Linked DNA regions of Homo sapiens. The protein of the gene in region 2 purifies or fractionates together with the protein of the main gene of each other region. This does not show direct contact. Each region holds a gene or a part of one and is shown on either strand. Other genes may lie near its edges. The genes, in order: MFSD8, KDSR and TMEM238L.

The links.
Region 1: the proteins of KDSR (region 2) and MFSD8 purify together in Homo sapiens (affinity purification with mass spectrometry; 2 studies listed by BioGRID and IntAct, with this or other methods). This does not show direct contact.
Region 3: the proteins of KDSR (region 2) and TMEM238L purify together in Homo sapiens (co-immunoprecipitation; one study listed by IntAct). This does not show direct contact.

The regions. Positions count from the first base shown.
Region 1 is NC_000004.12:127,917,178-127,920,201, forward strand, and holds the end of MFSD8 (major facilitator superfamily domain-containing protein 8), read right to left. Parts: 3' UTR 628-3,024; downstream 1-627. UniProt on the Homo sapiens protein: Outward-rectifying chloride channel involved in endolysosomal chloride homeostasis, membrane fusion and function. Conducts chloride currents up to hundreds of picoamperes.
Region 2 is NC_000018.10:63,353,654-63,357,308, forward strand, and holds part of KDSR (3-ketodihydrosphingosine reductase), read right to left. Parts: intron 1,911-3,655; coding exon 1,845-1,910; intron 1,647-1,844; coding exon 1,551-1,646; intron 1-1,550.
Region 3 is NC_000017.11:10,801,664-10,805,606, forward strand, and holds the start of TMEM238L (transmembrane protein 238-like), read right to left. Parts: upstream 2,437-3,943; 5' UTR 2,301-2,436; coding exon 2,061-2,300; 3' UTR 1,943-2,060; intron 846-1,942; exon of another isoform or gene 736-845; intron 1-735.

The DNA.
Region 1 (3,024 bases), on a different chromosome or scaffold from region 2:
GAGACATGTAGAACCCAAAGAAAAGAGTCCTGATGACATTTGGATTCTAGCTCCAACCATGCCTAAATAGAACTCTTAAACTCTTAGTTGCACAAGAAGTCTTAATACCTGGGGCCTGCAAGGCCTTGCATTGTCCCTTTATAGACTCAGCTAAAATTAGGCTTCTTCTCAACCACTATACTCCACCCAACTTGGACCTATTTTTAGTTCTGTGAAAGCTCCAAGATCTTCCCACCTCCAGGGCTTTGTACACACTGCCTTCTGCCTGAAAAGTACTTGTCCCACTCTTCACCAATCCAAATTTTCTCTTCCACTAGGTCTTGGCTAATCATTTCTTCTGGAGAAACATGCCTGACTCTCCTGTTCAGGTCAGGTTCCCTGTTAATCATATTCACCCTCATAGCTCCCTATGCTTCTCTCTCATCACCCCTCCCTCAATCATAATCATCTGTGAAATCATCTTGTGAATATCTGACTTTCTTGCTGGTACATAAGCCTCATGAAGGTCGGAGCTCTGTGTGTTTTGTTTACCGCACAATCCCCCAAATGACATTGTAATTGGCACATAGTGGGTACCCCCTTAAATATGTACTGAAAGACGACTGAATAAAGTTTTAAAGCTTAAGGTACATATGCAAAATAATCTTGTTTATTAGAAAATGAACATTCACAATGTAAAGTAGAAATTAAATTACAAATAAGTCTTCAATGGTCAAAAATGGTGCCCAGAATTTCTTCTCAAAATAAGTTAATCTATTCTTAAACAGATGCAGGTAAGTAGTTTATCCTTGTCAAAACAAAAAATTAACAGATTTCACTTTATGTAAGAGATAAGGTTTATATGAACAAGAAGAGTTTATTTTTAAATGTAAAGCTGAACAAGATAGAATGGAGATGCTTTGTGAAGTTATAAATCCCTTCAAAATATGAAAATCATCCTTTCAAGTTTAAATTTGTTTTCAAAAACATATTTTCTCTTCTTAAATATGTACTACTCTTAACAATATATCATACCTTAAAATCTCCTGTTGTCATTTTCTCTTTATACGCAACTTGGCCTACTCAAGAAGACATCAACATGGTGATTTTTTTTCCTCAAACTTTATCTCCTTGCTCTTTTCCCAATCCCATGTTACTTCCTTTCGCCTTCTTTTGTGCCAAGATGAGCAAGGTATAATCCTCCAAAGAAGAAAATGCTCCAAAGAAAATGCTCTCAATAAAAAGGAAAGTAAGAGTCATTTGTGTAAGGTTAAGTTTATCTAAATTTTAATCAATATTATAAACCTTTGAAAGCTGGGAAACTTTTTTCTGTTATATTCTTGCTGGAAACAGGTTATTATGCTAAGACAAAAGCTCCAGTCAGTGGGCTTATGTTGCCCAAATATTTCTGCTAGTAGGACTCACTGGTATAGTTAAATTACCCTACAATTAGTGATTAATTGAAACTGCAACTTTCTGGGATATTTTCCTCACTATGAAAAATCAAGTGGTTAAGACTGTGGACTTTAAGGATAGACTGTTACTTAGACAAGTAACTTTTCTGTGCCTCCATTCTTTCATCTGTAAAACGGGAATCATAATAGTATTTTCACTCCATAAGACTGCTGTAAGAATTAAATTGTATGTTACACATTACCTGGAATGTGGAAAGCACTCCACAAATTTTGCTCTTATCATTTTCATCATTACCATTATTCTTGTTATTTTTGTCATGCACACTATGCAAACCAAGGGTAGAGTTTACTCTTTAAGATTAGACGTGGCCCAAAAAATGTAAGACAGAGAAAGCAGCTGCAGAATAGCAGGTAAGAGGGATCCCAGACTTGACCAAATAGCCAGAACTGGCTACGGTTCTGAGAAATCTATGGAAGCAGTCTTGCTATGGGCGGCAGAGGAGAGTGAAAACAGTCTTCAAAATTTAATCGTAGAATAATTCTATCAAATTAAGCCCTTTATTAGAGCTGAAAAAATTGAGTTTAAGAGCACAGCTAGTTTAGCATAAAGTGCAGATTATACAGTTTTAAATTTTTGTTTTTATTTTTTGTAAAGACAGGGTCTCACTTTGTTTCCCAGGCTGGTCTTGAATTCCTGGCCTCAAGCAATCCTCCTGCCTTGGCCTTCCAAAGTGCTGGGATTACAGGCATGAGACACTGCACCCAACCTATAAAGTGCAGATTATATAGTGTTTATTCTCAGATTTGAAACTATTTCTAACTTAAAGTAGAAAACATTTGGAAAAGTGTTTAGAAATATTTTTGCATTTTCTTAACAGTGCTTATCAATATACATAGTTATCTACTAGTTCCTTTTATCAGCATTCAACTTATGTAGAGGTAGAAGTTAAACATACAGTGTTATTTAGCCAACTTCAGGTAAACTCAGTAAATTGTTAGATTAAAGCCATTTTGCCTCAAATACTTATTAGCCTGACTAGTTTGGGGCTGTCAGGGATCATCCAAATTAAAAATCCAACTAAAATTCTGCAGCTCTACACAACTATGCAGACATAGATTGAAAACTGTTGTGTTCCTCCCCGCCACTACTGAGAGATGGGAAAAATTAAAGTAAATTAATTAATGTTTTACTAATTAAATGTTTTTCTCCAGTTTAAGGGGGTTGAAAAATAGCAATAATTTTAAGAAACCATTTACTGTTTTGTATATATATATATAAAATAACACATATCTGGATTATGTTTCTAATGTGAATTTTTGGCATTTGAAAGAAAGTAGGTATCCCTATTAGGCTAATAGGCAGTGAAGTATCTTGATCTCTTAATCCTCTGTATTGCTCAAATATTAGCATTATCCATACTCATTTATTAATGTAGGGGTTACTTAGTGAAACCCTGAACTAAAATAAGGCAGAGGTGTAGTATTAGAAGAAAGACTCATAGAAGGCAAGGTAGGATGTTAGGCACGCTAAATGGAAAATATGTGTTATAATTTTTATTTCATAAGTGAACTTGATAATAGAAAATGCATTTTTTTATAAATAAAAAGTAGGTGTCTGAATAAAAATACC
Region 2 (3,655 bases):
AAAAGGAATGAGGCACCCATATATGCTACATGTGGATGAGCCTCAAAAACTGATGCTAAGAGAAAGAGGTCAGACACAGAAGTGCACATATCATGATTCCAATCATACGAAATGACCAGAGACAGAATACAGATTGGTGGTTGTCAGAGATTGGGTGTGGGGGTGAGCAGGGATGGGGAGCAACTGCTTACCAGGTGAGGGCCGCCCTATGGGTGATGCATATGCTTTAGAACTAGGCGGAGGGGGTGGGTGCACCTCATTGTGAATATGCTGAATCCCTCTGCATGGCTCACTTTAAAAACAGTTAATTTTATGTTATATGAATTTCACTTCAAATTAAAAAAATAATGTAGGACAATGAAAAAAAAAGGCAGTTAGATCTTAGATGTTTTTCCCCTCTCCACAGGGTAGATCTGTACCCCTCTTCCAGCCTGGCAGGAGACTGGAGGTTCTGTTTCTAGGGATAGTAAGTCTAGATAAAGAGAGAGGTTTAAGGGAAAGTCTGTCTAGACGGCGCACACGAAGACACCAACACACTCCCCAGCTTCATCCTCACAGGAGGCTGGAGGACACTCCGCTTGAGCCCGGGAGGCAGAGGTTGCAGTGAGCCGAGATCGTGCCACTGTACTCCAGCCTCAGCGACAGAGCAAGACTCTGTCTCAAAAAAAAGGAAGAAAAAGATTGTTGATGCGATGGCAACTAAAAAACGTTTTCCATTTTAAAAACATTTCAGGCCGGGCCTGGTGGCTCATGCCTGTACTCCCAGCACTTTGGGAGGTAGAGGTGGGCCAGTCACCTGAGGTCAGGAGTTTGAGACCAGCCGGGCCAACGTGGCGTAAACCCATCTCTACTAAAATAAAAAAAATTAGCTGGGTGTGGTGACATGTGCCTGTAATCCCAGCTACTAGGGAGGCTGAAGCAGGAGAATCACTTGAACTTGAGAGGTGGAGGTTGCAGTGAGCTGAGATCACGCCACTGCACTCCAGCCTGAGTGACAGAGTGAAATTCCATCTCAAAAAAAGAAAAAATAAAAATTTCAAATCTAGTGTTCATTTCTTTGGTGCTGAAATAAATTACCAAGAGAAGTTCCTTGGTAAACCTGATTAAAAATAGAAACATCAATAAGATGCAGTATCTTTTTATCTTGATTTGAGAACTCTAGTGAGTCTGTCCTTCAACTTTTTTGGTTTCTCCTTGTTAATAATACTGATGTTTGATAGGAACATCCGGCATCTCTTAGGTTACAAAGTGTTCTCTTGAAAATATGACCTCAGTGAACTGCTACAGTAATCTGTGTCAGATTAGAAGGTCCATTCCCATTTTAGCTGGTTTTCTCAGCTGTAAAATGTCTAAACTCTTAAGCTTCAATGGTCCTGACACTGGGATGAAAACCTTGTTCAGCTTCACCTTGTTCAGCCTTCCTCTAGAGTCTTCTAAAGCTTCCATGGACATCTGAATGCATTCATCTAATTGATTCTTAAAGCTTTTACCCGTAGCTTGCTCTGCTTTTAGCATATGTGCTACTGCAGTGAGCAAACATTTTTACTTACTTCAAAGGTACTAACTTCAAGATCTTCAAATTTTCCTGACACTGCCATTCCTGCACAATTTACCAGCATGTCCACTGGACCCAGTTTCTCCTGTGCCTAGAAAAATGTAGCAGAGCAGGCATTAAGAAACAGAGAAGAAAAACCACTCAGCAGCAAATCCATGCTGATAAATAAAATTTACAAAACTATTAAACCTATAGAGAAGTTGTGTCCATTCCAAGCCACATAGCAAAATGGCAAGAACAAATCAAAAGTCAAGCACATTGGTGAATTCCAATTAGCCCAACCTCTTACTTGTTTTATGACATTCTCTACTTGGTTATAGTCTTGAGATACATCAACTGATATGCAAAGCACCACCTGTTAAAAAAGAAAAAAAGTGATCAAAGTTTTGCAGGTACCAAACTATTTCTTAAAGATATTTTTTAAAGAAAAGACAGTTCATTGAATACAGAAGGAAGCCAATATTGAATGAACAGATTTCAGTGTTTGCTGATGATGCAATTAGCAGAATCTAATTTTCTTGGCAGCTTTTGGAGTTAAAACTCTGAGGAATCTTTTTAAAAATATATAAATGCTCCTCTTGAAATGCCACTAATCTATAGTGACAGAAGGCAGATCAGGGGTTGCCCACAGCCAGGCATGGAGGATGGAAGGAACTGTGAAAGGGCACAGGCCAACCCTAGGGAGTGATGGAAATATTCCATATAAGGGCCTCAGTGCTGATTCCTTTCAAGAAGGAATCCTGTCCAAATGATCAAAATTCCTAAGAAAAGGAAACAGCCCTCTTTGCAAATATAACCTGCAGCATTCTAGTCTAGAGGGGTTGCCCTTGGTTGTAATGTATACCTAGAGTGGATTTTATCCCAACATCCTCAGATAGAAAACATTGTTTTAAAGGTAGTAGTAATCGGCCAGGCGCGGTGGCTCACGCCTATAATCCCAGCACTTTGGGAGGCCGAGGCAGGTAGATCATTTGAGGTCAGGAGTTTGAGACCAGCCTGGCCTACATGGTGAAACCCTGTCTCTACTAAAAATACAAAAAATTAGCCTGGCGTGGTGGTGGGCACTTATAATCCCAGCTACTCAGGAGACTGAGGCAGGAGAATTGCTTGACCCTGGGAGATAGAGGCTGCAGTCAGCTGAGATCATGCCATTGCACACCAGCGTGGGCAACAGAGTGAGACTCCGTCTCAAAAAAAAAAAAAGGCAGTAGTAATCATATGATTAATTTTAAAACAAGCCTTTTCATGCAGTATTAGATCAGTTACTAATAATAAAATCTATGCCACAGACAAGTGAAATCTCAGAACAAAAAAATGTTAACAAGTCACACACACACACAAAAGGTCCCTAGAAGCCTGGCAGGGCAGAAGGATCAAGCTCATTCTCGCCTGCCCCAGCCCTATCTCCCTTCCTTGATGTGAAAGGTAAGTTTTCCACCTGACCTAAAGTCCTTTGGTAGATGAAGAGGTAGAAGGTGTCATGATGAGGAAGCCCAGAGCGGAGACAGTGTTGGCAGCAGGCAAGACTGGCCTTGGCCCTGAACACTGACTCCATGACTTCACACCATACTCCTTCGTCTATCAGATATTACAGGAATACGGGAAAAAACGGGGCAATTTACAGAGCTGGTGTTTTTCCAATGCTTGTGGGCTTCAGAGAAGGGGGTAAAGACCACAGTCTTAGAGAAAAACTCACATGTGCAGAAGATATACACAAGGATTTTTACTTGCAGCACAGACTGCAATTGCAAAAATAAAAATACAAAATAAAATAAAAAGAATGGAAACAGCTCAATAGCAGGGACCTGACGGAATAAGCTCTGGTGTACTTCAATCCTAGGCTGCAGCAATTTAAGGCAAATTTACTTAATGCACATGGAAAGATCTCTAACATTCTAGAAGGGAAAAAGTCAATGAATACCACAGTGAAATACTATTCAAAACTCATCAGAAAGGCAAAAAGTAAAAAGTCTGTCAATACCAAGTATTGGCAGGGATGTGGCGCAACAGAAACCGCATTCCTACTTATGGGAGCTTAACCACTTTGGTGAGGTTGAAGAACTGCATACACTACAGCTCTGCAATTCCATTTCTGGGTAT
Region 3 (3,943 bases), on a different chromosome or scaffold from region 2:
CCTTCCTAGAGCAGACCTGACTTTGTTATTGTACTTTTGTAAGTGTGAATCTTTGGTGAGTGTCTGTCTTTCTCACCTGATGGTAAACTCCCTGAGAGTAGAGCCCCCACGTCATGTGTCTTTTTTTTTTTTTAATTGAGACAGGTCTCACTCTGCCGCCCAGGTTGGAATGCAGTGGTGCAATCTCTGCTCACTGCAGCCTGTGCCTCCTGGGCTCCAGCAATCCTTCTGCCTCAACCTCCTGAATAGCTGGGATTACAGGTGTGCATCACCATGCGTGGCTAATTTTTTGTATTTTTGGTGGAGATGGGGTTTCACCATGTTGCCAAGGCTGGTCTTGAACTCCTGACCTCAAGTGATCTGCCCGCCTCGGCCTCCCAAAGTGCTGGGATTACAGGCATGAGTCACTGTGCCTGGTCCATGTGTCTCATTTCTTATCCCCAGTGTCTTGCACAGTGCCTGACACATTCCAACATACCAGCACACAAATCAGGGACCCTTTTTGCTCTGAAGTTTCCTGATGCAAAGTGTGAGTTGACCCCCATCACTACCAATTTGAGAGACACCAAGGTACTTCACATTTGGACTTTGGGTCAGTTAACTCATCCCAGATTATGTGTTTTGTATGCTTGACATCTGGTGTAAGAACCACATCAATTGTACAGCCTTTCCCTGCCTTATCTCTTTTCGATCCTTGCAGCAATAAGGGCCAGAAATATTCTCTTCATCTTACAGATGAGAATCCTGAGGCTCAGAGTGTGCAACCTGGCCAAAAACACCCAGCTAACAAGTGCTGAAGATCAGAGTGGGACTGACTTCTCATCTGTTTCTACATCATTTCCTAGGTATGGGCTTACCTTACTCTACTGAGACCTCTTCATTTTGCTTCTCTTTTCTCTGAGTTCTGAGAGTCAGGTGTAATCCCCCACAAAAGACACAATTATTATTTCCTTCTTTCAACTCAGCAACGACCTTTGCTCTTACTTCTGGTAAGGGAGTAAGAAACGGGAGTGCCTGGATACACCTGCGTGCAGGTTGGGCCCACCTGGGGAGGAGGGTATGGCTGCCCAATGGACCGTGGCTCTGACTTCAGTCCCCTGGAGACAGCTGTCCATCTCTAATTCAGGGTTGTAAGGACCAGACCACTCTATCTCTGGGACTCTGTCTTGATGTGAAAAAATCTTACAACTCTCTGCCTCTTTGGTTGCACGCGATAGACTGAGCTGTGACATGCAACTCAGCGGATGAAATCCATGAAGCCAAACTGTCTTGACTTCTGGGCCTTGGAGACTGGCTGGGCACATGTGTTGGCTGCGTGTGAGTGTGAGTGAGGGTGGGGTGGGAATACTGCAGAGAGAGGAGGTGTGTGCACTGAGTGGGCATGGAGGCGAGTAGTCCCTACCCCGCTTCTTGTATCCCATCTGGGCAGGTGCAGGGAGGAAGTGAACGAGAGGGGCCGTTCTGGGTGGTTCTGCTCTGTTTGCTTTTACCGTGGCCCAGTTCACACCCCTTCATGTATGCAAGGGCACAAGAGTCATTGGGGAACTTTCCGTCCTCTCCTGTGCTAAAGACTTTTCTCCCCAGCAGAGATTCTTCCCAACAGAGAATGCAGATGGGGTCTTTTTGTCCCCAAGTTCCGAGGTAAAGGGATAACTTCCCATTGTGCCCAGAAGCCAGGATCATTCGTGGTATATCAGGGGTGGAAGGGGCTGTTGAGACTCTCTTTCCAGCCTCTGCGAGGAAAAGGGCCCGGAGGAGAAAACACCTGCCCCACGTCCTCTTGGCTGGCCACCCCAGCAGGACCTGAGGCCAGGGCCACAGGATCCCCAGTCAGGGTGCAGTGTCTGGCTATTTGCTTATGCAGCCTCAGGAGGCCTGGTCTTGCCCCTGCTTGTCCAAGCCTCTCTGGCCACCCTGCCAGGTAGGTCTTGTGTGCACTCACCTGGTCCCGGCGTGGCTTGCTAGGTGGAAGCTGCAACGTGTTGCTGCCCAAGAGCCCCAGGTTCACAGACATGTCTGCATACAGCACCTGCGTCTCTTCTCCTCTTCCCATGGCCAAATTACAGGTCCAGTTTTTCAGGAGACACCTCAATGTTGAGGGAATACCAGATGATCCAGAGCAGTAGGCTGAGAGCCAGGATCAGGGCACCTGTGTAGATGAAGAAGTCCCAGGAACTCAGGGGGGCCAAGATCCCCAGCAGCAAAAGGACCAGGCCGACCGCGTCCAGCAGGAGGGCGAGGATGAGGAAGAGCGCACAGCGCCCTGGATGGCATCTTCCCCACAGACTCCCCAGGAGCATTGCCCAGGAGGAGCGGGAGGAGCCCAGCTGCACTCCCGGGGGTGATTTGCATGGGAGGGTGGCGGTCCTGCCTGCTGCTGCCTTCTCTGCCTGCTGGGTGTGAGCAAATGAGCGAGCTGGCGCTTCTTGGAGCCACAGGGAAGTACACGTGGGTCTACCTTTATGAGCACGGCAGCCAGTGGGGCAGGATATTTCTTAACTGTTTCATGGCTCAGGAATGATCTGGACCCAAACAGTCTGACATCACTGTTAATTGGGCTGCTCATCGCTGGGACCTACAATCCATGTGGCAGAGGAGTCAGGGTGCCCTTGGATGCATCTGCCAAGTTGGCGGTCCTGTGATTCTGGGGGAGGGGCTGATCTGTGCCTTGTTCTCTAATCCCTGGAAGCCAGAGAGCCTGAGTGCCCTGTTTCTGAGACACAGCTGCTTCATCTAGTATAGCGGGGTGGAGTGGTGGAGTTTCCATTCCTCTTCACCTCCCTGCCCTACTCTCTTCCTTGGGGGAAAAGGTTTTATGTAAAGGACATAGACAAGAGTTTGTAAGATCAATCGATTTTGAAGCGTTGCTGTAAGAATTGGTCCATGTTAGCAAGAGAAGTTTTGCCTTCTTGTAGAGCCCTCACTCTGCAGACGGAAGGATCTGAGTTCCCTAGGATAATGGACAGTAAGGATAAGGGCGGGAAAGGGGTAGAGATGGAAAAGACAGAGGGGACAGAGAGAAGACAACAGGGTGAGAAGAAACTTCTGGCCTCTTCCTGCAGTGGATTCTGTGTGGACCAAAGGGCAATTCCCAGGCAAAAGTCAAGGGATGTTTCCGGGGCCTGTTGCCTCTGTGTTTTCTACATGAACTCATTTTATGTTCATTTTCTTTCTCATAATAGATGACCCTGTAAGCCCTTCCAGACACTGCCTGCATCCCTTCTACATTGATGGGAGCGATCTTATCCCCGTGGCTGCTCACGGCGGGTGTGGGGGTGAACATCAAATGAGGAAAATGCAGCGGCAGTCCTTGGCAGGGCTGCAGACAGCCACCCCTCTGTCCCTGATTCACAGGGAGGCTAGAACAGGGCACCAAACCTTTCTGGGCCTCAGTTTACCCAGATAAATGAAGAAAATAATTTCCACTCTCACTTTTGCCTTCCCCAGAGGGTGAGAATAAGTAGGTGGATCTGATTTCCTTTTTTTTTTGAGACAGAGTTTCATTCTTGTTGCCCCGGCTGGAGTGCAATGGTGCGATCTTGGCTCACTGCAACTTCTGCCTCCCAAGTTCAAGCAATTTTCCCACCTCAGCCTCTGGAATAGCTGGGATTACAGGTGCCCATGACCATGCCTGGCTAATTTTTGTATTTGTATTAGAGATGGGGTTTCAAACTCTACTTGGCCAGGCTGGTCTCGAACTCTGACCTCAGGTGATCCGCCCGCCTCCGCCTCCCAAAGTGCTGGGATTACAGGCATGAGCCACTATGCCCGGCCTTCATTTTTCTATGTGTAAAATAAGCCAGGATGAGAAAGAAACTTTCAGAAAATATTTTGGGGAAGGTGGCAGGGGATGACCTAAACCATAGCTCTTAGGATCTGAAACGCCACGAGACTTGAGCCAAGCCAGGTGAACACTCTGGACACCTCAAAGTGGGAAGTAGCT